Regions from separate parts of the Homo sapiens genome. Here regions 1 and 2 are each linked to region 3. The links come from fine-mapping of genetic effects on gene expression. Tissue or cell type: whole blood. Region 3 holds a variant in brackets; each other region holds the start of a gene. All regions are shown on one strand. Distances are from middle to middle.

Region 1 (8,105 bases), 310 kb after region 3:
AAAGCATGTGCACAGCCACTCTTGCTAATATGGTAACAAGATTCCACCCTTTCCTTCCTGAGACTAGGTCATGCAGAGAATTTAGTGAGTAGATATTTTCTGAGGATTCTTTTTGGCTCTTTCATGGGCCAGTCACGGTCCTGACATGGGTGACCACCCAGAGATGAATGTGAGGAGATGACACAGGATTCTCTGGCCAGATGGAATAGTGCTGGATGTATGCATGCATACCTGCCATTTCCACATGTATAGTGCTTTTTTTCTGATTATGCAAATAATGTATGCTTACTGTAAAAAAATTATGAAAAATGTAGAAAAGATAAAAACTATTCCTCACCCCATCTTCCAGAGACAAACTATACTTCACACATCTCTTTCCTGCTTTTATATATATACATATATCTCACCACAATGCACTATCATTTCCTGCATGTATATATATATATATATATGTGTGTGTGTGTGTGTGTGTGTGTGTGTGTGTGTGTGTGTAGGAAAGAGATGTATTAAGATGTATTACAAATGTATAACATTGTATATGTCTTTTGTCATCTGCTTTTTTTGTATTCAATTTTATATCATGAGATCTTTGACCATCTCACTGAAAAATCTTGAAGGACATTATTGGTGAAGGCTGATAGAAATGGACCATGATTTCCCCAGCCGTCTCATGTTGCTGACCATTTCAGTTGTTTCCAGTTTTAAATGCAACAGGAGAGAGCGTCATGTCAGTAGCTAAGCTTCTGCAACACACCTAAAGGAAGCATGTTGCTGAGTGCCCTGCTCTGATCCCCTTGGAGAAACGCTGAGGACGGATTTGATTTCAAATACTGTAAATCAGGCCAGGTGTGGTGGCTCAGGCCTGTAATCCCAGCACTTTGGGAGGCTGAGGTGGGTGGATCACCTGAGGTCAGAGTGTGAGACCAGCCTGGCCAACATGGCGAAACCCCGTCTCTACTAAAAATATAAAAATTACCCAGGCATGATGGTGTGCCTCTGTAGTCCCAGCTACTTGAGAGGCTGAGGCATGAGAATCGCTTAAACCCTGTGAGGTGGAGGTTGCAATGAGCCGAGATCATGCCACTGCACTCCAGCCTGAGCGACAGAGCAAGACACTGACTCCAAAAAAAAAAAAAAAAAAAAGCCACAGTATGGGTTTCTATGCACATATGGCAGCGAGCCCATTCATTGACTGTCAGGTAGCATCTACATAAAATGGAATACTATTCAGCCTTTAAAAGGAATGCCATTTGGATATATTCTACACCGTGAATGAACCTTGAAAACATGCTAAGTGAAATAAGCCAAATACAAAAGGAAAAACATTATATGATTCCCTTTACCTGAGTATCTGAGATACCTAGAGTAGTCAAATTCAAAGAGAAAAAGTAGAGCAGAGGTCGCCAGGGGCTGCAGGGGTTGGGGGAAAGGGGAATATTGCTTAATGGGTACGGAGTTTGTGTTTGGAATGATGAAATGTTCTGGAAATCAGTGGGGTAATGGTTGCACAACATCGTGAATGTGCTTACTGCCACTGAATTGTATACTTGAAAATGGCTAAAATGGTAACTCTTATGTACATCTTTCCGCAATTTTAGAAAGCCACAATGAGGCAGAATTACAACACAGGAGGGTAAATACTAAGGTTCTGCCTAAAGGCTTGGTCCTCCTCGTGGCCTTGGATGACCTCATCCCCCTCGAGGGGGACGCCCGGGGACTTTCCCACCCTTCTGAACCCAGCCTTCTCATTCTCTGATTTTCATCCAGGCTCCCCTATTCCAGCACAGCCTCCATTTCCTCAGGTGTCTCGTAAGTTCACCCCCAACCTCTGAAGAGCTCCACCCCTCCTCACAGGGCAAGCTCACTCCTCGGTTCTTCTTCCCTTCCAGGGCTTCCATTCTTATCCCGAGTTTCCAGCTTCAGCCAGGTGCCCAGGGATGCTTGCTATGGCCGGATCCAAAGGCCAAGGCAAGAGGAAACAACGCAGCTCTCTGGGGATAAGGGTGGGCGGCATCTCCCAGTCGGGTTTCCTTTTCAGCATCTGCCGGGAGGGCTGCAGGCCGGCTGGGTATTTTCATAGCTGATCTACTCAAACAAACACATCTCCTAAAGACAAATGTTGGTTATGTTCTCTGAAGACACTACAGTTTAAATCCACATTGGGGAACTCCCCCACTAGCCAGGCACCTGTTCTGCCCTTGAAGTCGGCGGGTCCCCATCCCTGGGCAGAGGAGCTTTTGGTTTCTGACGTTGTCCTCCTGAGGCTGCTGGAATCACAGAAAGACCTCATTCCCCTTTAATGTCAGCTTTCCCATCCCCTGCGTGTGGTCTCAAGACCTTGGAGCTCTTTCTTATAACAGGTGGGTGGGGGCGGGGGGCAGGGGAGGGGTGACAGTTTCTTCTGTCATATAAACATAAAAACTTCAGCAACAGTGTCTGATTGTGTCAAAGCTGAGACCCAGATATGCTGGAATGTGGAGACAGAGACAGTCCTGGTGTGCTGGTGTGGGGGAGCTTAAGGGACATCAGACCAGCTGCTGAACCACACCCTTCATTTGCCAAAAGCTCCATGGGGAGAAACGGGGATCCTGTCGAAAGCTTGCACATATTCTGACACATGCAGATATGTCTTATGGGCTTAGCAGGCCTGGACAGAGGCAGGGATTGAGCACGAGGTTGGCGAATGTCTGACTCCCCACAGGCGAAGAAGGAAGAAGGCTGAAGGAGCCACGCTCACAGCAGGACAGGAAGGCTGTGGGTGTCTGGAAAGCTGTGGGTGATGTGCCTTGATTGCCCCCGTGGTGGAGCCCAGCACTCCAGGAGGGAGAATACTTGTAAAGAATTAAATTAGAATGATTTGCCTGGGAGGTGGAGTCAGCAGCATAAGGAGACTGCTAAAAGGGCGAGAGCAGAGCGTAGTGAGAAGTTTCTATACAGGCTGGAGATCCCTGGAAGCTAGTGGTGGTGGAGTGAGAGAGGAGAGAACAGACACGTCAAAGGCCAGGGGCCGTCGCTGGTGGCTGGACTAGGTGAGCAGCTCAGTGTTAGGGGGGCAGGTGGCCTCCGTGGGAGAAGCTGAGGGCAGCAGGATGACCAGGGCCACAGGAAGCAGCTGGGTTATTTGCAGACAGCTCCCACCTGGGCTGCATCCATCACCCACGCACTATCTTATCCTCAGAGACGCAGGCCAAAAACGATGGCTTCTTTTCAGTGGCTACATTTTGAATCAGGTGATGCTTGATAAAAATGAAACATCCTGCTCTTCTTCACCCGACCTGCCTTTTCACCTACCCAAACAAACAAAAGCAAAAATAAAACAAGACAATAATAGCAATGAGGCAGAGGAAAGACCGAGTCCCATCCTACAAGAAGGGAGGCCTCCGTCTCCCCACAGCCACTCCTATCACCCCAGATCATCACTGCCTGAATGCTGCCTTTACCATCTCAGCCCAAGACACTGTGTTCTTGACATTTTAATCATTGGCATCATTATGTCATTTCTTTGGCAATCGAAAGCAATGTTCCTGCTCCTGTGTGGGTTTGAACAAACAGCCCAAGGGGAGAAATAATGAATTCTCAAAGGAAAAAAAGTCTGTTTCTCATCTCAAGCACCTGGAAGGCTAAGGCGGGAGGATTGCTTGAGGTCAGGAGTCCGAGGCTGCAGTGAGCTATGTTCACACCACTGCACTCCAGCCTGGGTGACACAGTGAGACCCTGTCTCAAAAAAAAAAATCCTGTAAGCAATGAGACACACAAGGAGTAATCAGCACACAGAGCCTTAGCACACACTCCAGCCTGCACACTCTGCAACGTTCTGCTCTTACCTCAGTGTCACAAGGTGTGGCTTGAGCAGCTCTTGCCCAGACAGATAAAAAGCAGGTGTAACATAGTGACCCCAAGGGACCCAAGGGTGCCCATGGTTTGCAAGAGAGGAAAGAACAGAGAGAGCCTGAACATTCCCAGAATTGCATTGCTCACTAGCCAAGCTGTGGCTTCCTTGACACATGTAGCTGGCATGGGCTCCGCCCACAAGCAGGCCTGGCTGAGCAGAAGGCAGCTTCCAGGAACTCCAGGGTACAGTTATTGTGTTGATCCAACAGGTGCCCAGGCCAACACCAACGTGGGGCCTGAAGCTGCCTGCCCACTCCTCTCTGGCCTCTCAACCCTGACCAACAGCCACCCTCACAGCAGCATGGGCCAAAGGGTCATGGGACAAGCCACAAATGCAGTTGACACAGCCTGGGTACATCATGCACAGCAGGGTCCACTCTGTTCCACCATCAAAGACCCCTGCCTCCTAATTGGGCTTAAGAATGGGCAGGACGCACCTGTGCTTTAGTAGTGCAGCTCCCATAATGGCTGGATTGCCACATGCTGGTATCTCAGTACAGCTGCCCAGGTGTCCTAAACATGTTTTAGTCATCTTTCTAGAGAAGGTAGAGACTATGGTTATAGTAACAGGAAAAGTATGAAACAGGGGAAAGTACCAGGATGTCCCCTCATGGACTGTCACTACTGGCCGTCACTACAGAACTTTTATTCATTGTTTCATTGTTTTTAAAACGTGCGTATGTGCAAGGCCTCAGATCTTTCTGCTATGAGTCCCTCATCGTTGACTTGGGACCACAGACTTCGGCTAGAAAGCTCACTGTCATGCTGGATGAGGGCATGGCTCAGGCACCGTGGCTTATCGTTTGGGCTGAGGACAGATGTAGCTTTCACTGAACTCTCTTCCAGTGCACCAGTGCAGTTTTGGGTAGCGGGGACGTAGAAGTGTGCCCAGAAGGGCTGAAGACGTTTTGCTTTTTTTGTTTTTGTTTTTGTTTTGAGACGGATCTTGCTCTGTTGCCCAGGCTAGAGTGTAGTGGTGCAATCTCGGCTCACTACAAACTCCTCCTACTGGGGTCAAGTGATTCACCTACTTCAGCCTCCCAAAGTGCTGGAATTACAGGCATGAGCCACTGTGCCTGGCCCAAAGATGTTTTTTAAAGAGAAATAGAGGGAAGAGCAGCTGCCATAGGGAATGGAAATGTGGGAGAAGAGAGGCTATTTAAGAGGATTTTTTTATTTTTTGAGATGGGGTTTCACTCTGTCGCCCAGGCTGGAGTGCAGTGGTGCAATCTCGGCTCACTGCAACCTCTGCCTCCCAGGTTCAAGCCATTTTCCTGCCTCAGCCTCCTGAGTGGCTGGGATTACAGGCACGTGCCACCATGCCTGGCTAATTTTTGTATTTTTAGTAGAGATGGGGTTTCACCATGTTGGTCAGGCTGGTCTCGAACTCCTGACCTCAGGTGATCTGCCCTCCTCGGCCTTCCAAAGTGCTGGGATTACAGGCACGAGCCACTGCCCACCGCCCGAGGATTTTTTTTTTTTTTTTTTTTTTGAGACAGAGTCTGGCTCTGTCACCCAGGCTGGAGTGCAGTGGTGCAATCTCAGCTTTCTGCAACCTCCACCTCCTGGGGTCAAGCGATTCTCCTGCCTCAGCCTCCCAAGTAGCTGGGATTACAGGCAACTGCCATCATGCCCAACTAATTTTTGTATTTTTAGTAGAGACGGGGGTTTCACCATGTTGGTCAGGCTGGTCTTGAACTCCTAACCTCCAGTGATCCATGGCCTCGGCCTCCCAAAGTGCTGGGATTCCAGGTGTGAACCCCTCTGCCCGGCCAGCTTAAGAGGATTTTGAAGGGGCTTTAGTGATTCCATGTTCCATGTGACCAAGAAATCACCATCAAAAATCGATATATGTTTTGTCGTAACAAGGAGATACACAAAGGGATAGCGACTACCTCTGCCTCAGGAGTCAGCAAATACTTCACTCAAGAACTGATCTTGAAGGATGGGTGAGAATTTTCTAGAATGAAAAAGATGGATAGGTTCGTGTGTCTCAAAAGCAAGCCCAGGACAGATGCCAGTGGTTACGTTTTCACTGGTCTGAAAGGACATGAGAAAAATAAAGACCAGGTAGGAAGCTTTTCAAAAAGCTAAATTTATCCAATTGAAAGGAACTTAGGTTTCGGATGATGTACTTTCTACTTTTGGAGGGTTGCTGTTTTTCTTTCTCTTATGAAATCAAGCTGAATATAGATGATACCATCTATGTTATCATTTACATTCTCTCTTACTTAGCCTAATAAAAACATCACGTTTCCCACATTTTTTAAAAAAGGTACTGACCTTTGAAATGCAGAGGTCTGAGGGCTACCGTAGCACACTCTAAACTAAGGTGCTGGATGGTGCAGGCTGCCCCGCTGGGCAGGCCATGGTGCATGTGGAGAACTGGGAGGAAGCCAGGGTATGAGGAAGATGGGACAGAGCAGTGGTTTAGGGTTAGATGGAGGACGGTCTTTCATAGGGACCTTGGACTTCATTCTTTAGGAATGATTTGGGGTTTATAAATGAAGGAGAGAGCAGATTATATTTTACTGGAACCCAGGAAGATTAACTTTGGTTCCAGTAAAGTAGTGGACTGGAGAAGAAAGAGATGAGACAAAAAGACCAAAACCACTGATGCAATTTTCCAGGGGTAAGACGAGGGCATTCATTATGATCAGTGGTGATACAGACAAGGAAACCAAGCAAGATTCGAGAAACTCCTAGGACAGCATTGGCCTCAAAGACATTCGTGTGATGAATGCTTTAGAGCCCTGTCAACTCATAGACACAACCAACATGTATATTGTGTTATACAACCAGGATATCTGAGGAGATCTCAGAGCTGAGTCTTAAAGACCGATTAGTCCTTCGGGCCTACAAATCCTAGTTCCTGAGCCAACTCAAACAGTAAAGAGCACTGGGGTACCACCCGTTCTTAGTGCCACCTAAGAACATAGGCTTTTGGGTTCACTGGCCAGTACATGAATCTGACACTTTTAAAAATAGGAGATGACAGATTTAAAAGACTCTGGGGCAGGGGGAGGTCAGGCAATTTAAAAGAACAGAATGGATTTGCAAGTATAGATGAGAAACTACAATGAACACTTGGCATCAGTGAGAGGGCTGCAATAGGGAATGATGGTGACTGCGGAAAACTCAAGCTCATGTGCCCTACCTAAAGGGGGTAGCTGCCATTCTACACCAGCTAACTCTTGCCATATAGGAGTGGAACCAGATTTTTGAAATTTTGAACGAAGCTGGAAATCTGAATTTTTGTTTTCTGCTAGTTCAAGTTTTGAAACATAACAGCCACACCATGTGAGTTGAAACCAATTTTGTTGGCAAGCTGAATTTGTTCCACTGACCTCCAACCTTAGATCTTTGGCCCAGGAATTAGATAACTATTAGGCTAATGCACAAGACCTCATACCAGAAAGAGAAACATGAAGATAGGTAGTGATAGAGGTGAGGTATGAATCATCTGTTAGAAGAAAGAAAAGAGTATGAGACATTTTTTAACTTACAATGAATAAATCGCTATTCATAATTCTCCACTTCTGTTACCAGAGGATGTAATAATGGGTTTTGGAAAATAGGCAACACTTGTAACCATCAAGTGATGCCGTTGCCATTGTCACATTTGTCTTTCATAGTTGTTTCATACGAAGGAAGAACAGGTATTGTTATCCTCATTTGGCTGTTGAGAAAACGGAGGCATGGCAAGGCCTGCAGTTCCCTAAAATCACTGAGTGGTAGTGGCAGGGCTGAGTCTAGAACTTTGTCAACTATCACCACCTCTGGCATCGGCCTACACAGCCACTTGTGAACAGGTCCTCTTAGAACAGGACATTTCAGCAGCTGCTGGTCTCTGAAAGTGCCAGAGAGCCTCAGCGCAAGGAGGCAAGGTGGGAGAGAAGTTGCAGAAAGCACCGCAGATGCTCCTGGCAATGCTCACCGTCCCACGCTTGCTCACGGCCCCAGCAGAGGCAGGACCGTGGATACCAATCCAGGAGTGTGAAGAACAGCATCTCTTGTCTGCACAATCCCTCAGCGGCTCCGCTGGGGACTTTGCTGCACTCAGTTTTTCTCACCTGCAACTTGTCAGACAGCATTCTCTTTTTGTCTTCATCGCTATTTTCATCAGAATTTGGAAGGAGCTATAGCTTATAAACACAAAATGGCAAAACAAAAAAATTTTAAAAAGAATTTGGAAGTGGCTGGATTTAGGACTG
Region 2 (8,105 bases), 230 kb after region 3:
TGCCTAGGTTCAAATTCTGGTATGGGGAACTTAATCTTTGCACCTGTTCCTTTATCTTGTGTACAGTAAGGATAGCAGCAGGACCTACCTTACAGGGTTGCTGAAGGTACTAATGAGTTAACCCATCAGAAGCTTAGCAGCACCTGGCTCTGTCTGCTGCTCTCATCACTGCTCTGTTCCTAAGCCTGGCCGTGTCCAGGCTGTGGCTACCACCTCGGTCAGCTACCACAGCCCTGCTTTGTGGCAGACACCTGGACCCTGAAGGAGAAACTAGCTCCGGAAGCACTTTCTCATGACTCTGCTTAATAAAGGAATAAATAGTATTCAGAGTGTTTCAGTCCTTCTTATATGGACATTTCTCCCACAACAAACCTAAGGGGAAAGTGCCCATTTCTATAGCAGCCAAAGCTGTGCTAATGGATAGAGCCTACATTTATCAGAAGTCCCCTCCAGAATGAGGAAATGGTCTACAGGCAGGCCCCGTTTCCTCCTCTGATGCCCTAACTTCTTTCCATTTCTCTTTCCAAACCATGAAATCCCTATTTCAACTGCTTTTGACTAGAATACATGAACCCAAAAGTCCATTAAACCTATTCATTAGTAAAAACACTTTTCAAATTATTGTTAATTTCAAGAGTTTTAAAGCAGAACATTTTTTATTTTTTAAAGACGTATTTAAACATATAACAAAGGTTGGTAAACTGTTCTGAAAAATATCCAACAAATGGGGAGAAGTAACTAAATTATGGCCCATACAGCAAATAATGCAGTCATCTTCAGAACTTATTTTTTGAAGAATATGTAACAACGTGTAAAAAAGCCCACAATATAACTTAGGTGATAAAGTTAAATTGTCAAAATTGTAATCTTTAATTAACAATGTATGCTTAAAATTTGTTTATTGTATAGGGAAAAAAGACTGGAAGGAAATATAACAAAATGTTAATAGTATTTAATCTCTGGAAGAGCTTCATTTTTCCTATTTCCCAAATTTTCTCCAGTAAGTATGTATGACTCTTAAAATATGAAAAACAAATACAGCTTTTCTGTGGCAAGTGGTTTTTAGATATTAGACAGCTTTCAGAATTTTATTTAAACTTGAAGACCAGCAAATAATTCATAAAGAGAATCAGCCCAGGCACCTATATGGAACCACCAGTTTTGAGATTTTATTTTATTGTTTTTACTTTTTTTTTTCTAGAGATGGGGTCTTGCTCTGTTGCCCAGGCTGGTCTTGAACTCCTGGCCTCAAGCAACAAGCTATTTGCCTCCAGATGATCACATCCTTCTAAGGCAGGCAGCACAGGGGAGCAGGGCCCTTACTCACCTCCACTTAAGTTTTTGTCCAAGGGTGACACCCTCCAAGCCAGCCACACTTCAAGGAGTCTCCAATATTTCACCCGCCCCTCTTGATTCCTCAAAGGTCATAAGTGAATCAATACTGTGTTGTTTCTAACACAGTCAAGAACATGAAAGTGGGCTGGGTGCAGTGGCTCACGCCTGTAATCCTAGCACTTTGGGGAGGCCAAGGAGGGCAAATCGCTTGAGCCCAGGAGTTCGAGACAACTGGGCAATATGGCAAAACCGCTTCACTACGAAAAAAATACAAAAATTAGCTGGGCATAGTGATGTGCGCCTGTAGTCTAAGCTACTGGAGAGGCTGAAGTGGGAGGATCAACTGAGCCCAGGGAGGTGGAGAGGCTGCAACGAGCCATGATCATGCCTGTACTCCAACCTGGGCGACAGAGTGAGACCTTATCTGGGAAAAAAGAAAAAAAAAAGAAAGTGAAAATGTCATGATGTAGAAAATGAACATAACTCAGATTATGTGATAGTTTTCTCTTCTTGCCATTATATACAACCCAAGGCTTGCCACAAACTGAAATTTCTTATGCATTGACATTCAGCATTTGATGTAAAATGACAATCTTAGAGTCGCTGCCACAAACCCTGGTAAAACTGCCCCTGCCTTCTCCAGTTCACTAAGTTCAGCTACTCCTTCAGGGCTTGTGCTCCTTTAAAACTTTTCAGAAGCCCCTTGAAGTACCAACATGTTGAAACTCAAACTCAACTGCCTGCAGCTTCAGATCAGCTCTGGCCACTGAGAATTCTTCTCCAGGCCCCAGTGTCAAAGGCACTTTTGACCATCATGTGTTTGTCTGACTACCAAGTTGGACTGCCAACCTTCACTAAAAACTCCGGCACCTTTATCTACCTCCTGTCAGATCACCGCCTGTCAGAGAGGGAGGCCTAAAAAGGCTTCAGGATATCAACAGCTTTGAGCTGCCTTAGAGGAACTTCTTTTCTATTTTGTAGTACAGGAGCCTCATGCACTGCATCATCCAAACAAGACTCTCCACAAAACATTACTAATGGATTCTAATTGAACAGAGTTTGGTTACAAGAGACAGTAAACACAAATGGGCACCTGTTTTAAATGGCAAACTTACACAATAAATTCAATTGATCTTAAAAACTAAACATTCCTCTAAGGTTACTGACTATAAATATCTAGAAATTACTACTCCTATAGTCTTGCTATTTCCAGACAAGTGAAACTGGAAGGGAGAGAGGAGAAATACCCAGTTATAATGACAAGACAACCTTATCTTTTCTCAAAAGCCTCCCCAAACACACAACCATTTTCCACAAAACAGTTACATCAAAAAAGATGTAGCAAGACCTAGACATTAAGCATGCTAGAAAGTAGGGACAGTTTTACCAGTGTTTGTGGCAGCAACTCTGAGATAGTCATTTTACATCAAATGCTAAATGTCAATGCATAAGAAATTTCAGTTTGTGGTAAGCCCTGGGTTATATATAATGGCAACAAGAGAAAACTATCACATAATCTGAATTACGTTCATTTTTCTGCATACACCATGCATGCTGGTACACTTTCAGTTAGCCTAAACTTCACCCAAAAGTAGAGGTGGCTATGAAAACTCTACCTGCATGGTATAAATAGATACCTAACCCTACATGCATGGGTCACTTGTATCTACCTCCTAAATACCAAAAACTTAGAAGCCCAGATTTCTTTTCAGTCAGGCTGCCTGCGATAACAATAAAAATACTGCCAAAATAGGAACAACAGAGACAGGAAGGAAATATGCCAAAATGCTTATAATTGTGGGGAAGGGTAATTTTTTGTTTTGTTTTGTTTTTTACAGAGTCCTGCTCTGTTGCCCAGTCTGGAGTGCAGTGGCGGGATCTCAGCTCATCACAACTTCTGCCTCCTGAGTTCAAGCGATTCTCCTGGCTCAGCCTCTCGAGTAGCTGGGACTAGAGATGCATGCCACCACGCCTGGCTAATTATTTGTATTTTTAGTAGAGATAGGGTTTCTCCATGTTGGTCAGGCTGGTCTCGAACTCCTGACCTCAAATGATCTGCCCGCCTCGGTCTCCCAAAGTGCTGGGATTACAGTGAGCCACCACGCCTGTCTGGGTAATTTTTTTTTAAGTATTCTGTTTACAGTAAATTCAGAAAACAGAAGTCTTTAATATGTCTGTTTTAAAGGGGAGAGGTATAAGGTGTGCGGCTAACAAGTTTATTTTTCTAGTCGCAGAATTTGGACTCGTGAAAGATTTTAGTCTAATGCAGTTTGTTCACAAATATAAGGAGGGGGGCCTCAGACTAGGGAGGTGTTTTCCGAGTTGAGTCAGAACAAGAAAGTAAGTCTCCCAAGACCTGGTCCTTTTCCACTATATCACACTGCACTGTCTGGCTCCAATCTGATGGCGAGCAATGGTTCCTTAAAAAGCTCCATCTTCTCAAGCCTACCCAGCACAGACCTACAACTCAAACTTTAAGTTTTAGCCAGCCTAACCTTCCACGTCCACTTGAAAAAAGAAAAAAAAGAAAGAAACAATCAACCGGAAGCCTTTGATTTTTTTGCTAGCAAGAAGCCAATAATTGTTTTCTTTGGGACAATCACAGGTTAAGTTGTGAAATGGGTGGCAGAAACTGCAAGATTTAACCAGTTTCTCTCAACGCTAATCAAAGGTCAAGAAAATAAAAGACAGGGCAGTGAGAGTCGCGGGACTTTAGACACTCCTGCACCAAGAAGCTTAAAAGTCTTAGCCAGGGCACTAGAGAACGCTTTTAGAATGGTCACTCTTAATTATGCTCCATAACCTTGAAATTGGACTGAGTGGGGAAGGGGTTTCCACACTCTCACAACGCACCGACTGGGGGAACGCCTGTCCCCAGACTCGAATCCACGTGTCCATTCAAGTCATCTACCGCCACTCTCCGTCTACGCTGCCAGGTGACAGACATCATCTTTGCTTCTCAATTTCAAAAAATGCCAGCACTCCTTAGATCAATGACTCCACGGCCAAGTGCAAGGGCCACGGGCACTCCTCTGGAGTCACCGAGAGAATGTCTGCCTCTGGCAGCGGCCTCTGAGCTGCCTGTGGGCCTCGTGCCGCCGCGCTGCGTGGGGCCGGCATCTCAGCGGGCGCGAGTGCAGTCTCGCCCCACGCGCGGTCCGAACGCCCGCGAGCCCGGCCTCTGGGCAGGCGGGGGCCGCGGACGAGGGCAACGTCAGCGGCCCAGCTGGGCCACCTCCTCCCAGCCGAAGCGCGGCCTCCGGCTGCTTCGCCGGGCCGGTCCCCGCCGCCGCACACACAAGGGTCGGTCCCGCGCGCATCCCCGGCCGCGCACCAGCCCCGCGCCCGCGCCGCCCGCGACTCAGACACAGGAAGCTGCGGCAGCACGGGCACCCCGGAGGCCTCCGGCTGCCGAGGGAAGCGGGGCCGCGGGCAGGAGGCCGGAAAGGCGGCGCGGCCCCACGAGCCTGGGGTGGCTCACGCGCCTCCGCGGCGGCCGCTGCTCCGGGCTCGGCCCTGAAGGGCAACGTCAGCCGGCGCCTCGGCCGGGGCCCGGGCACCGCCGCGGGAGCAGGCGCGGCTCCGCACGGCGGGCGCACTCACCTCCTCCGTGGACCGGCCGCTCCGCCGCCGGCTGTCACTGCAGCCCACTCCCTGCCCCGCGCCGGCTCTGGATGCTATTTAAGGCGCCGCTGGCGCCGCCGCCTCGGCCCGCTGGTTGCGCCCCCGCCACCGCCGCGGCTGAGCCAGGATGCTGCTGGTGCGCTCGCCGCGCCGGCCCCGCCCTCCCGCGGCCCCGCCCCGCCCGCAGGCCCCGCCCCCGGCAGGCCCCGCCCCGCCGAGCGCCCGGCCGCCCTCCTGTCTGGGCGCGCGTGGCTGGCGGGTGGCCGGCGGTCGAGAGGCTGCGGCGGGCGAACGCCGCTGGAGTCGCCCAGACTGCCTCGGATTTCATAATGAATCTGAGGAAGGACAAAGGGTACATTGGACCGCCTCAGCTCAGAGGCCCCGCGGACCCTGGGCCCCGCGATGCCCGAGGGGCGGGCGGCGCCCTCCGGATCCTGCACCCTCAGCCCGTGCCCCGCTGGCCTCCTGGCAGGCCGGGCAGAATTCTGCTGCGAGGGCCCTGGAGGCAAGGGCCTTCCTCTCCGTTTTTCCTTGACACTGACGGGCGCGGCCCCACAGGGTTTCCCCCACGCTCCCTGGCCGGAAGACCTTTTCTGTCTGGTGTCTGCAGAGCCTGACGTGGGCAGCGCCCGCAGCTCGCGCCGGTGCAGGGGAGCTGAGGGCCGACTGCGCGCTGCACCACGGCGGCCACCTGCTGTGCGGTTCTGAGGGCTTCCGCGGTTCTGAGGGCTTCCGCGTCCCTGCCATGCCCATCTTGGGGCTTCAGAAGCCAACACGATGGTTTTCGGGCTCACATCCCAAAGGCTGCTCTTCCTTTTAGCACCTGGGACCTACCAGGAACCTCAACCTCTAACAACATTGGTCCCCGTTACCGTGGAGTTTGCGCCCAGCGTTCGCTGGAGGGCCGTTTGAAGAATGATTGTTGTCGTAAAGGCCTTTGATAATAATAGATACTGTTTACCCAGTGCTTGATGCCAGGCATTGCTACAAACACTGCGTACACATTATTCTATTTAATCTTCATAACCCAGTGAGGTAGGTACTGTCATTACTGTCCTTTCACAGAAGAGGAAGCTGGGGCACAGAGGTTAAATGCTAGTGAGAGCAGTACCACACTTGGCACTCAGGCTGCCCCCAGAGTGTGGGCACAACCAACGCAGGGCTATGCCTGGGCTGCAGGCAGGGGAAACTGACCGTGGTTCGCTCCAGGCCTCAGCCACACTGCAGTTCACTCCCACAAATAACTGAAGGACTTTCCCTGGGTGTCTCCCACAGTGTGCTGGGCGCAGTGGTGCAGTGGGGTGAGGACAACGCACACACCAGCAACCTCTCTAGCAGCTCAGTCCTTTTAGATCTCCATCTTCCAGATCTAGAAAAAATGGACTCCACGTTCGTTTTCACTGGTTCCCGCTTGGCTAATCCCTGGTTTTTCTGTCCAGATCTCGCCTCCCCATCCGTGATTTTGTCATCTTTGCCTCTCCTTTTTCCTCTTCTCCAACCGGTCCCTCAGCCCCAGAACCTCTGCAGGCACCTCCCAAGTTCTGTGGTCTATTGTTTTCAAGGGCTGCTGGAACGAAGTACCACACACTAAGTGGCTTCAACAACCGAAATGTATGGTCTGTCCTGGTTCTGGAGACTAGAAGTACAAAATCACGGCGTGGGAGGGCTGGCTGCTTCCGAGGCCCATGAAAGAGCATGTGTGCCCGGCCACTCTGACTTGCAGATGCCCATCTTCTCCCTATGTCTCCTCACACCATCTTCCCTGTGGTGTGTGTGTGCAAATCCCTTCTTTCTATAAGGACACCAGTCATACTGGACTAGGGCCCACCCGAATTGCCTCATTTTAACTTGATGACCTCTGTAATCATGAGGTAATGTCCAAGTAAGGTCCCATTCTAAGATACCTGAATGCCCAGGCACGGTGGTTCATGCCTGTAATCCCAGCACTTTGGGAGGCCGAGGCAGGCAGATCAACTGAGGTCAGGAGTTCAAGACCAGCCTGGCCAACATGGTGAAACCCTGTCTCTACTAAAAATAAAAAAATTAGCGGGGCATGGTGGTGCGTACCTGTAGTCCCAGCTACTCGGGAGGCTGAGGCAGAAGAATTGTTTGAACCCAGGGAGGTGGAGGTTGCAATGAGCCAAGATCACGCCACTGCATTCCAGCCTGGGAGACAGAGCAAGACTCTGTCTCAAAACAACAACAACAACAACAACAAACCCCTGAACATATGAACTTGGGGAATGTGGGGGTGACAATTCAACCCGTAACATGTGGATGGTCGTCACTGGCTGTCTCACCTTACGTCTTCTCCTCAAGACACTTTTCTTTTAAACTGGGTGCCTCTCCCTGGGCTCTAGCCCTTAATGAGGTGATTTCCAACTCAAGGCTGGGAAAGGCACACAACCCAGTATCAGACCTGAGTTCACACTCCTTCTGGCAGGAACTTCTAGGTGACATTGGGAAGCAACTTCATTCCTTAGAACCTAGATTTCTCCTCAGGCTATAAGGGGGCTTGGCTAAATAATCTCTTAGGTCTCTTTCAGCACACACACTTAAAAAAAAACAAAAAAGTTTTTATCTAATCACTCCAAAAAGTTTTACAATGTATGGGGTTGTCTTGTGGACTTGAGATAGAGACTTTGATGGGAGGCAGTATTGCATAGTGGTTAAGAACACAGGCTTTGGGGTGGGTGAATCCACATCAAGCCTCATTGCATCCTCCTTAAATCAGGAATAATACCTACCTCAGACAGGTGTCATAGGATTGACAGCCACGCCCTTGGCGTTCTCATTAAATGAAGATTCCAGACTCTATAGTTGGGAGTTTGTGACTTAGGTAAGAAACCAGTCTCTTTTTTTGAGACGGAGTCTCACTCTGTTGCCCAGGCTGGGGTGCAGTGGTGCGATCTCGGCTCACTGCAATCTCTACCTCCTGGGTTCATGCCATTTTCCTGCCTCAGCCTCCCAAGTAGCTGGGACCACAGGCACCCACCACCACACCCGGCTAGTTTTTTGTATTTTTAGTAGAGATGGGGTTTCATTGTGTTAGCCAGGATGGTCTCGATCTCCTGACTTCGTGATCCACCCGCCTTGGCCTCCCAAAGTGCTGGGATTACAGGCGTGAGCCACCGCGCCCGGCCTTT
Region 3 (8,105 bases):
TCACTGCAACCTCCATCTCCTGGGTTCAAGCAATTCTCCTGCCTCAGCCTCCTGAGTAGCTGGGATTACAGGTGCGCACCACCACGCCCAGCTAATTTTTTGTATCTTTAGCAGAGATGGGGTTTCACCATGTTGGTCAGGCTGGTCTCCAACTCCTGACCTCGTGATCCGCCCACCTCAGCCTCCCACAGTGCTGGAATTGCAAGTGTGAGCCACTGCGCCTGGCCGAGAGTGCTAACCTTTAAAGCTGTAAATTTCATATTCATGAGAGCTATGGGCAGGGTTCATCTGAAGACATATCGTGGCAAGTTTATTTCTCAAAATGCCATTTGGATATTTTCCTGGATGATGTGGATAGTGGAAGCATTGTTGATGCTATAGGGCTTTAAAAACCCTGTTCACGGCCAGGCACGGTGGCTCACGTCTGTAATCCCAGCACTTTGGGAGGCTGAGGCTGGTGGATCACCTGAGGTCAGGAGTTCGTGACCAGCCTGGCCAGTGTGGTGAAAGCCCATCTCTACTAAAAATACAAAAACTAGCCGGGCATGGAGGCACACACTTGTAATCACAGCTACTCGGCAGGCTGAGGCAGGAGAATCACTTGAGGCAGGAGAATCACTTGAGACCGGGAGGCAGAGGTTGCAGTGAGCCAAGATCACGCCACTGCACTCCAGCCTGGGTGACAAGAGTGAAACTCAGACTCAAAAATAAATAAATAAATAAATAAATAAATAAATAAATAAATAACCCTGTTCACACTGTCCTACAAGGAGCACTCCCCCACACCATTTTTTTTTTTTTTTTTTTTTCTTCCTGACACAGGGTCTCTGGAGTCTCCAGCGATCCTCCAGGCCTACACCACCACGCCCAGCCTATTCACTTTTTTTTTTTTTTTTCTACCTTCTTTTCTTTTTCCTGGCCTATTCACTTTTAATGACAAGGTATTTCCAACCCAGAATAGTCTTTGACAGCATTAACTGACAGATATTTGTGTATGAGTTGCTTCTATTCATCCTGAAAAGATACAATTACTAAAGCATACATTTGTAAGAATAACATTTTTATTTGAGTAGGTTAAATCTGAATAACTAGAAATTTCCTTTAAGGAGAAGGATGAGCTGCCTTCTTTGTCTTTAAATTTTTCTCGCTCTGTGGATCTGAAAAATAGGGCAGCTGGCCCAGTCCTGTTGGGCCACACCAGAAAAACGATGGAGCTTCTTAATCACACGTAATTATTCTCAGAATCCCATCTTCGTTCATGTGTGCCAGGCCACAACTTAAATTAGTGAGAAGGGCAAGTAAACCCTTTGGCATTGCCAAATGACCATCTAAGTAGTGCCAAACAGAATTTGGATACTAAGTTAGCCTGACAGTTTACTAAGTATTTCCCATCCCCCCCCCGAACTTGGGGTTGTCAGAGAAGACTGGTTATTTTTTTCTTTAAATCTAGGGTCCAATCTGAGAATGTGGAATAGCAAAGACTTGGATTGGAGAGCTAGCAATATAGTCGTTACAGAAGGAGTCTTATAAGGACAATTTGGATATATTAGCTCCCCCAGAAGAAGGCACCGTTACTATTTTATTATTGTCATTAGCCATGAATTACCTCAAAGCATAGCCAGTGTAATTGAAAAATGTTAATTTTTCTTAGAAAAAACAGTACCCACTTCAGGGAGAACAAGCTCTGTTGCTTGGGGGTGTCTTTGCTGACAGGGCAGAAGTGGAGCCAAGGGTTTTTTTGTTTTTGTTTTTTGTTTTTTTTGTGGTGTTTGGCTGGAGTAGCGTGGTTATTGTCTAAAAGTTTTCCATCTTGCCAGGCTGCCTGTTTCCTGGTCCTTAGCTAGACATAGCAGGCTTTCTTTGGCTTTTTTCTTTTTTTAATCCATGCCCATTGGTGTTTCTGGGTTGCCAGCTTCTCCAGTGTCCAACCCAAGATACGTGAGACAAAAAGAAAACTCAGTGGCTCACTCACTGCCGTGTCATGCCCTGGGTTCCCAGGTCCCTACATAGCCTTCCTTGCTGCATCCACTTTCAGAGTCTTCTGATATTTGTCTTATAAACAATGTCTAGGCTTTCTAGCTACACTCAGCAGGAAGAATAGAAAAGCACATGCTCCATTTTGGTCCTTGTAGTATTTTTGTATCAATTAAATAGGAATTTCACTGGAGGTGAGAAACACGGCATCAGTTTCAGTTGTCTCTAGAGACACACAGAGTGATCTACGTCAGGGTTTTCTCCAGTGGAAACTCCGTATCTGGTTCATTTTTAAAAATCAACGTTATTGGGGTTTGATATTCATACAATAATGGATACTTTACATATAATAAAATGCACTCATTTAAGATTAGTTTCATGAGTCTTAACAAATGTATACACCTGTGTAGCTATTACCACCACCAAGATATAGGACACTTTCCTGACCCCTCCAATCTCCCTGTGCCTCGTTATAGCTGAGACACTCCTAATCCCTGCCCCAGGCAAGCATTCATCTGATTTCTCTTGCTTTGGCTTGGTTTTTGCCTTCATATAAATGAACTTCTAAATAAATGAAATAATAGAGTATGTACTCTTGGGTCTCTTTCATTCAGCAGCATAGTTCGGATATCCATCCACATTCTGTGTATTAGTAGTTCGTCCTTTTTGATTGGTGAATGCTATTCCATTGTATGACTATACCTCAATTCGTTTGTCCATTTTCCCCTGAGTGGACATTTGTGTTGTTTTCTTTTTGTGCTATTATGAATATGGTGCTTTAAACATTCATGTTCAAGTCTCGTAGATATATACTTTTATTTCTCTTGAATAGCTAGGAGTAGAATGGCTGGCTCATTCAGTAAGTGCATGTTTAACTTAACCACCAAACTGAATTCCCAAGTGGCTGCCCAATTTTGCATTCCCAACAACAGCGCATGAGAATTCTGATGCCTTCATATCCTTGGGGTCTGGCTCTGGTCCCAGCACCACTGAGAATCCCTCTGAAGCCAGCATGGTTCCAGTGCTCAGCTCAGCCAAAGGCACCACTTACTAAAATGAGTGCACAGTAACACCGTTTCACTCTTTCTATTCCCACGCACTGGAGACCTGGGCTAGGACGGGTTATGGGATCTACCCTGCACACGCCAAGAGCCGCTCTTCCCATCTGACTTTTAAAATCTCAGTTTCGAATCCCACAATTCTTTCTCAAGTCTAACCCTACTCAGTCATCACGGGGGCGTCTTCCCTAAGAGAAAACTCATGCTATCAAGTTTCACTAAAAAGCTTAGCCTAAAAGAGATGTAGACATCATTTGGAGGGGTGAGGGCAGTGAAGACAAGCAGAGCTATCTGATGTCAGCCATCTGCACAGAGAATAACAAGCAAGATAATTTTGTAGCCGTTTTAATTCAAATAGACCTTGAGAGGCTTTGTAAGCTACTTACCTTCAAAATGTGGCACGCCTCATGGACATTATTAATACAAATACAAAATTTATTTTTCTATTACAAATGAGAAAAAAGGGAGCTAGGTGCAGTGGCTCATACCTGTAATCCTAGCATTTTGGAAGGCTGAGGCAGAAGGATC[G/A]CTTGAGCATGGGAGATCAAGACCAGCCGGGGCAACATAGTGAGACCCCATCTCTACAAGTAATCTTTTTAAAAAATAGCTAGGCGGCTGGGTGCAGTGGCTCATGCCTGTGGTCCCAGCACTCTGGGAGGCCAAGGTGGGCAGATCACCTGAAGTCAGGAGTTCAAGACCAGCCTGGCCAACATGGTGAAACCCCGTCTCTACTAAAAATACAAAAATTAGCTGGGCGTGGTGGTGCGTGCCTGTAACCCCAGCTACTCAGGAAGCTGAGGCAGGAGAATTGCTTGAACCCAGGAGGCAGAAGTTGCAGTGAACTGAGATCATGCCACTACCCTCTAGCCTGGGCAACAGAGCAAGATTCCGTTTCAAAAAAAAAAAATAGCCAAGGGTGGTGGCATGCACCTGTAGTTCCAGCTATTCAGGAGGCTGAGGCAGGAAGATCGCCTGAGTCTGGGAGGTTGAGGCTGCAGTAAGCTGTGATTGCATCACTGGACCCCAGCCTGGGTGACAGAGGGACACCCTGTCTCAAAAAAAAAAAATAAAGATTTTATACTAAAGAAATTCTCAATTAATTCAACTTCAAGTAATTTGAAAACAATTCTCACCAATGTCTCTTCACAGCTGTAGTCATTCAGGAATTTTAATGTTACATGGAAAATGTCCCAGCCATCCACACTGGCTAGTCTGTTTCCCATTTTCTAGCTGCTGCCCAGTTGCTAGGAATCCTAATGAGTTGATACTTCTCTCCTCTGACAGCCAGGCCCAACCAGCCCACGGAAATCTCAGTCAAGGCAGCACTACAAGAGACCCAGAGCAGGGGCTGCATGAGCTTGGTCCGTTCTGGGCCTCAGTTTCCCCATATTTAGATGGAGGGGATTTCCAAAATTAGATCTCAGGCCCTGTGCCCCGTGTTCCTCTGGCTGCACACGACCACTTAAGATGTTCTGTCGGGAAAACGGAAGGGCAGGGGTCTGGGAGGGTGAGATGCTTTCTCGGGGCATAATGTTTCCCAGAAAGACGATATTCTTACAGCGTGTGACATCTATTATTTCTGCCGGGATTTTGTAGAAAATGTAAATCTGGCAAGAAGAAAATTCACCTGGTGAATTTCCAAGTGAATCAGGAGCCGATTCCCAGGCATCTTCCCAGCGTTCCTCACGCGTTGTTAAGGCGTGGCCCCCAGTCTTCTTGGACCTGGGCATGGCTAAGCAGGTCTGGGAGGTGGAATTTGGAGGTAGCCCCCAAATCCCTGCACCCTGGTGGGCATTCCTGGTGTGCTTGCATCCCCCTGCAAGTGGGCAGGACGTGTCAGTATGATGGGATCTCACTCCCAGGATTGGGGCAGAGGCTGTATGGCAGAAATGAAGAGGTTTTGCAGATGTAACTAAGGTCTCTAATCAATTTACTTTGAGTTAATTTTTTAAAAAGGAAACGATCCTAAGTGAGCTTGACCTGATCAGGTGAGCTTTTTAAAAGAGTCCAGGCCTTCCTGGAAGGAAGCAGGTGTTTGACGTGAGCAAGATCCTCCTGCTGAGCTTTGAGAAGCAAATTGCCTCATTTTGAACTGCCTGTGTGGGGCCAGGTGGCAAGGGTGAGGGTGACCTGCAGATGCTACGATGGGTCCTGTCCAACAGCCAGAAAAGAACAGAGGGACTTCAGTCCCACGCTACAAGGAAATGAATCCTGCCAATAACCTTTATGAACTTGGAAACAGTTTATTTTGGAGTCAAACCTCCAGATGAGAACACAGTCCCAAGGCCAGGCACAGTGGCTCACCCCTGTAGGGCACAGGTACATTGGCTCACCCCTGTAGGGCCAGGCACAGTGGCTCACCCCTGTAGAATATTTAAGTCTGGCAAGAAGAAAATTCATCTGGTGAATTTCCAAGTGAATCAAGAGCTGATTTCACAGGCGTTTGGGAGGCAGAGGTGAGAGGATTGCTTGAGGCCAGGAGTTCAAGACCAGCCTGGACAACATAGTGAGACTCCTTCTCTACAACACACACACACACAGAGCCCAGCCAGTACCTTGATTTTAGGTGGTGATGAGAGGTGACAGCGTGCTGGCAGTCCTCACAGCCCTCTCTCGCTCTCGGCACCTCCTCTGCCTGGGATCCCACTTGGATGGCACTTGAGGAGCCCTTCAGCCCACCGCTGCACTGTGGGAGCCCGTTTCTGGGCTGGCCAAGGCTGGAGCCGGCTCCCTCAGCTTGCGGGGAGGTGTGGAGGGAGAGGCGCGGGCGGGAACCCGGGCTGTGCGCAGTGCTTGCGGGCCAGCTGGAGTTCCAGGTGGGCGTGAACTCGGCCGACCCCACACTCGGAGCGGCCGGCCGGCCCCACCGGCCCCGGGCAGTGAGGGGCTTAGCACCTGGGCCAGCAGCTGCCGTGCTCAATTTCTCGCCGGGCCTTAGCTGCCTTCCCGCCGGGCAGGGCTCGGGACCCGCAGCCCGCCATGCCTGAGCCTCCCCCCGACTCCGTGGGCTCCTGTGCTGCCCGAGCCTCCCCGACGAGAGCCGCCCCCTGCTCCACAGCGCCCAGTCCCATCGACCACCCAAGGGCTGAGGAGTGCGGGAGCAGGGCACCGGGACTGGCAGGCAGCTCCACCTGCGGCCCTGGTGCGGGATCCACTGGGTGAAGCCAGCTGGGCTCCTGAGTCTGGTGGGGACGTGGAGAACCTTTATGTCTAGCTCAGGGATTGTAAATACACCAATCAGCACCCTGTGTCTAGCTCAGGGTTTGTGAATGCACCAATCGACACTCTGTATCTAGCTGCTCTGGTGGGGCCTTGGAGAACCTTTGTGTCCACACTCTGTATCTAACTAATCTGATGAGGACGTGGAGAACCTTTGTGTCTAGCTCAGGGATTGTAAACGCACCAATCAGCGCCCTATCAAAACAGACCACTGGGCTCTACCAATCAGCAGGATGTGGGTGGGGCCAGGTAAGAGAATAAACGCAGGCTGCCCGAGCCAGCAGTGGCAACTCGCTGGGGTCTCCTTCCCCACTGTGGAAGCTTTGTTCTTTCGCTTTTTGCAATAAATCTTGCTACTGCGCACTCTTTGGCTCCACACTGCTTTTATGAGCTGTAACACTCACCGCGAAGGTCTGCAGCTTCACTCCTGAGCCAGTGAGACCACGAACACATCCGAACATCAGAAGGAATGAACAACTCCAGACGCGCCACCCTGAGAGCTGTAACACTCACCGCGAGGGTCTGCGGCTTCATTCTTGAAGTCAGTGAGACCAAGAACCCACCAATTCTGGACACAGTGAGACTCTGAACAGAGGATCCAGCTAAACCAGGCCTGGGCTTCAGGCCCCAAAAGCTGTCAGAGGCTAAATTTGTTTTAAGTGTGTGGGGTAAATCATCACCCATCACTAGCAAATGAAACACAGCAAGGATTTTTCAGTGCGGGCGTTCCCCCAGCTCTCTGCAGCACCTGTTTGCACCTTAATCTCACAGCACTAGCACATAGGAGGGCAGGGAATCCAACCCTCATGAGCTCTAAGGATCTGATGGAAACCGTGGAGGATCCCGCGAGAAGTAAATGAGCCTTAAAGCAGGACAGAACTGATTGCCTGTTAAGTGCTAAACTGTGTGCTTCATACACATATTTAATCTTCACAACTGTTCTGCAAGGATGGAAATGAGGTTAGTCATGATAATCATTTTAGAAGAAAACTGAGGTTAACTAAAAGGCCCAAGGTCATGTAGCGAATGAGTGGAGGAAGTCAGGATTCACAGCCTGACCTTGCTGACTCCAAAGCCCATGAATTTTCCAGGTTTCAATGCTGCTTCCTATTTCTCTCCACTTTGTTTCGGAGTCCCAGGCCACACCATACTCTACCCCGGCATCCCCGTACCCAACTCTGCTGTGTGTCTGTGTAGTTTCTCCTTGCCTAGAGCTATGTTTGTGGCCAAAACTATCCTTGCTAGAACTCTGGCTCCTGTTCCTTTGCTGATACCCACGCCCAGCACCATGTGGTGATCCCAGCTCAGCTCCCTCAGCTGCAGCAGCTGTTGCTTCCTTACTTTCTGAATCCTGAGGTGACAGATAAGTAAGTAAAGAATGGAATTGAATAGAAAATCAAGAAGAAAAGTACAAAAATACGATGTTTTAAATTTATTGCCAAGAAATTCGGAGATTTAATTAACAAATCAGCATATGCATCAAAGAATAGGGACCTGCCAATTTTCAACCTATAGTTGACTCTCCAACCTATAGTTGACCCTTGAACAACACAGAGATTAGGGGCACTGACTCCCACACAGTCAAAAATCCACATATAACTTTTTTTTTTTTTTAGACGGAGTTTTGCTCTTGTTGCCTAGGCTGGAGTGCAATGCCACGATCTCGGCTCACTGCAACCTCTGTCTCCCAGTTTCAAGTGATTCTCCTGCCTCAGCCTCCCAAGTAGCTGGGATTACAGGCATGCGCCACCACACCCGGGTAATTTGGTATTTTTAGTAGAGACAGGGTTTCTCCAGGTTGGTCAGGCTGGTCTCGAACTCCCAACCTTCGGTGATCCGCCTGCCTCGGCCTCC

The links. PIP is the estimated chance that this variant, and not a neighbour inherited with it, causes the effect.
Region 1: it holds the start of LINC01093, and the variant in region 3 is fine-mapped to the expression of LINC01093 in whole blood (TOPMed, PIP above 0.99).
Region 2: it holds the start of ACSL1, and the variant in region 3 is fine-mapped to the expression of ACSL1 in whole blood (TOPMed, PIP above 0.99).

Annotation. Positions count from the first base shown.
Region 1 is chr4:184,895,483-184,903,587 of GRCh38, forward strand. It overlaps LINC01093 (long intergenic non-protein coding RNA 1093), which reads right to left and starts at 3,979. Exons shown (of 2, transcript NR_039977.1): 1 at 3,825-3,979. RefSeq lists an enhancer at 1,637-1,926.
Region 2 is chr4:184,820,978-184,829,082 of GRCh38, forward strand. It overlaps ACSL1 (acyl-CoA synthetase long chain family member 1), which reads right to left and starts at 4,991. Exons shown (of 21, transcript NM_001995.5): 1 at 4,939-4,991. It overlaps LOC105377587 (a long non-coding RNA gene), which reads left to right and starts at 5,194. Exons shown (of 3, transcript XR_939564.4): 1 at 5,194-5,994. RefSeq lists enhancers at 4,240-4,309, 5,560-6,063, 5,670-5,719, 5,890-6,169 and a silencer at 4,480-5,439.
Region 3 is chr4:184,586,122-184,594,226 of GRCh38, forward strand. The region is part of intron 1 of LINC02365 (long intergenic non-protein coding RNA 2365); the gene reads right to left. Among named protein-coding and RNA genes, the nearest start is that of LINC02365, 35 kb to the right of the region's middle. RefSeq lists a silencer at 3,134-3,428. The variant G/A (reference allele first, on the strand shown) is at 3,561.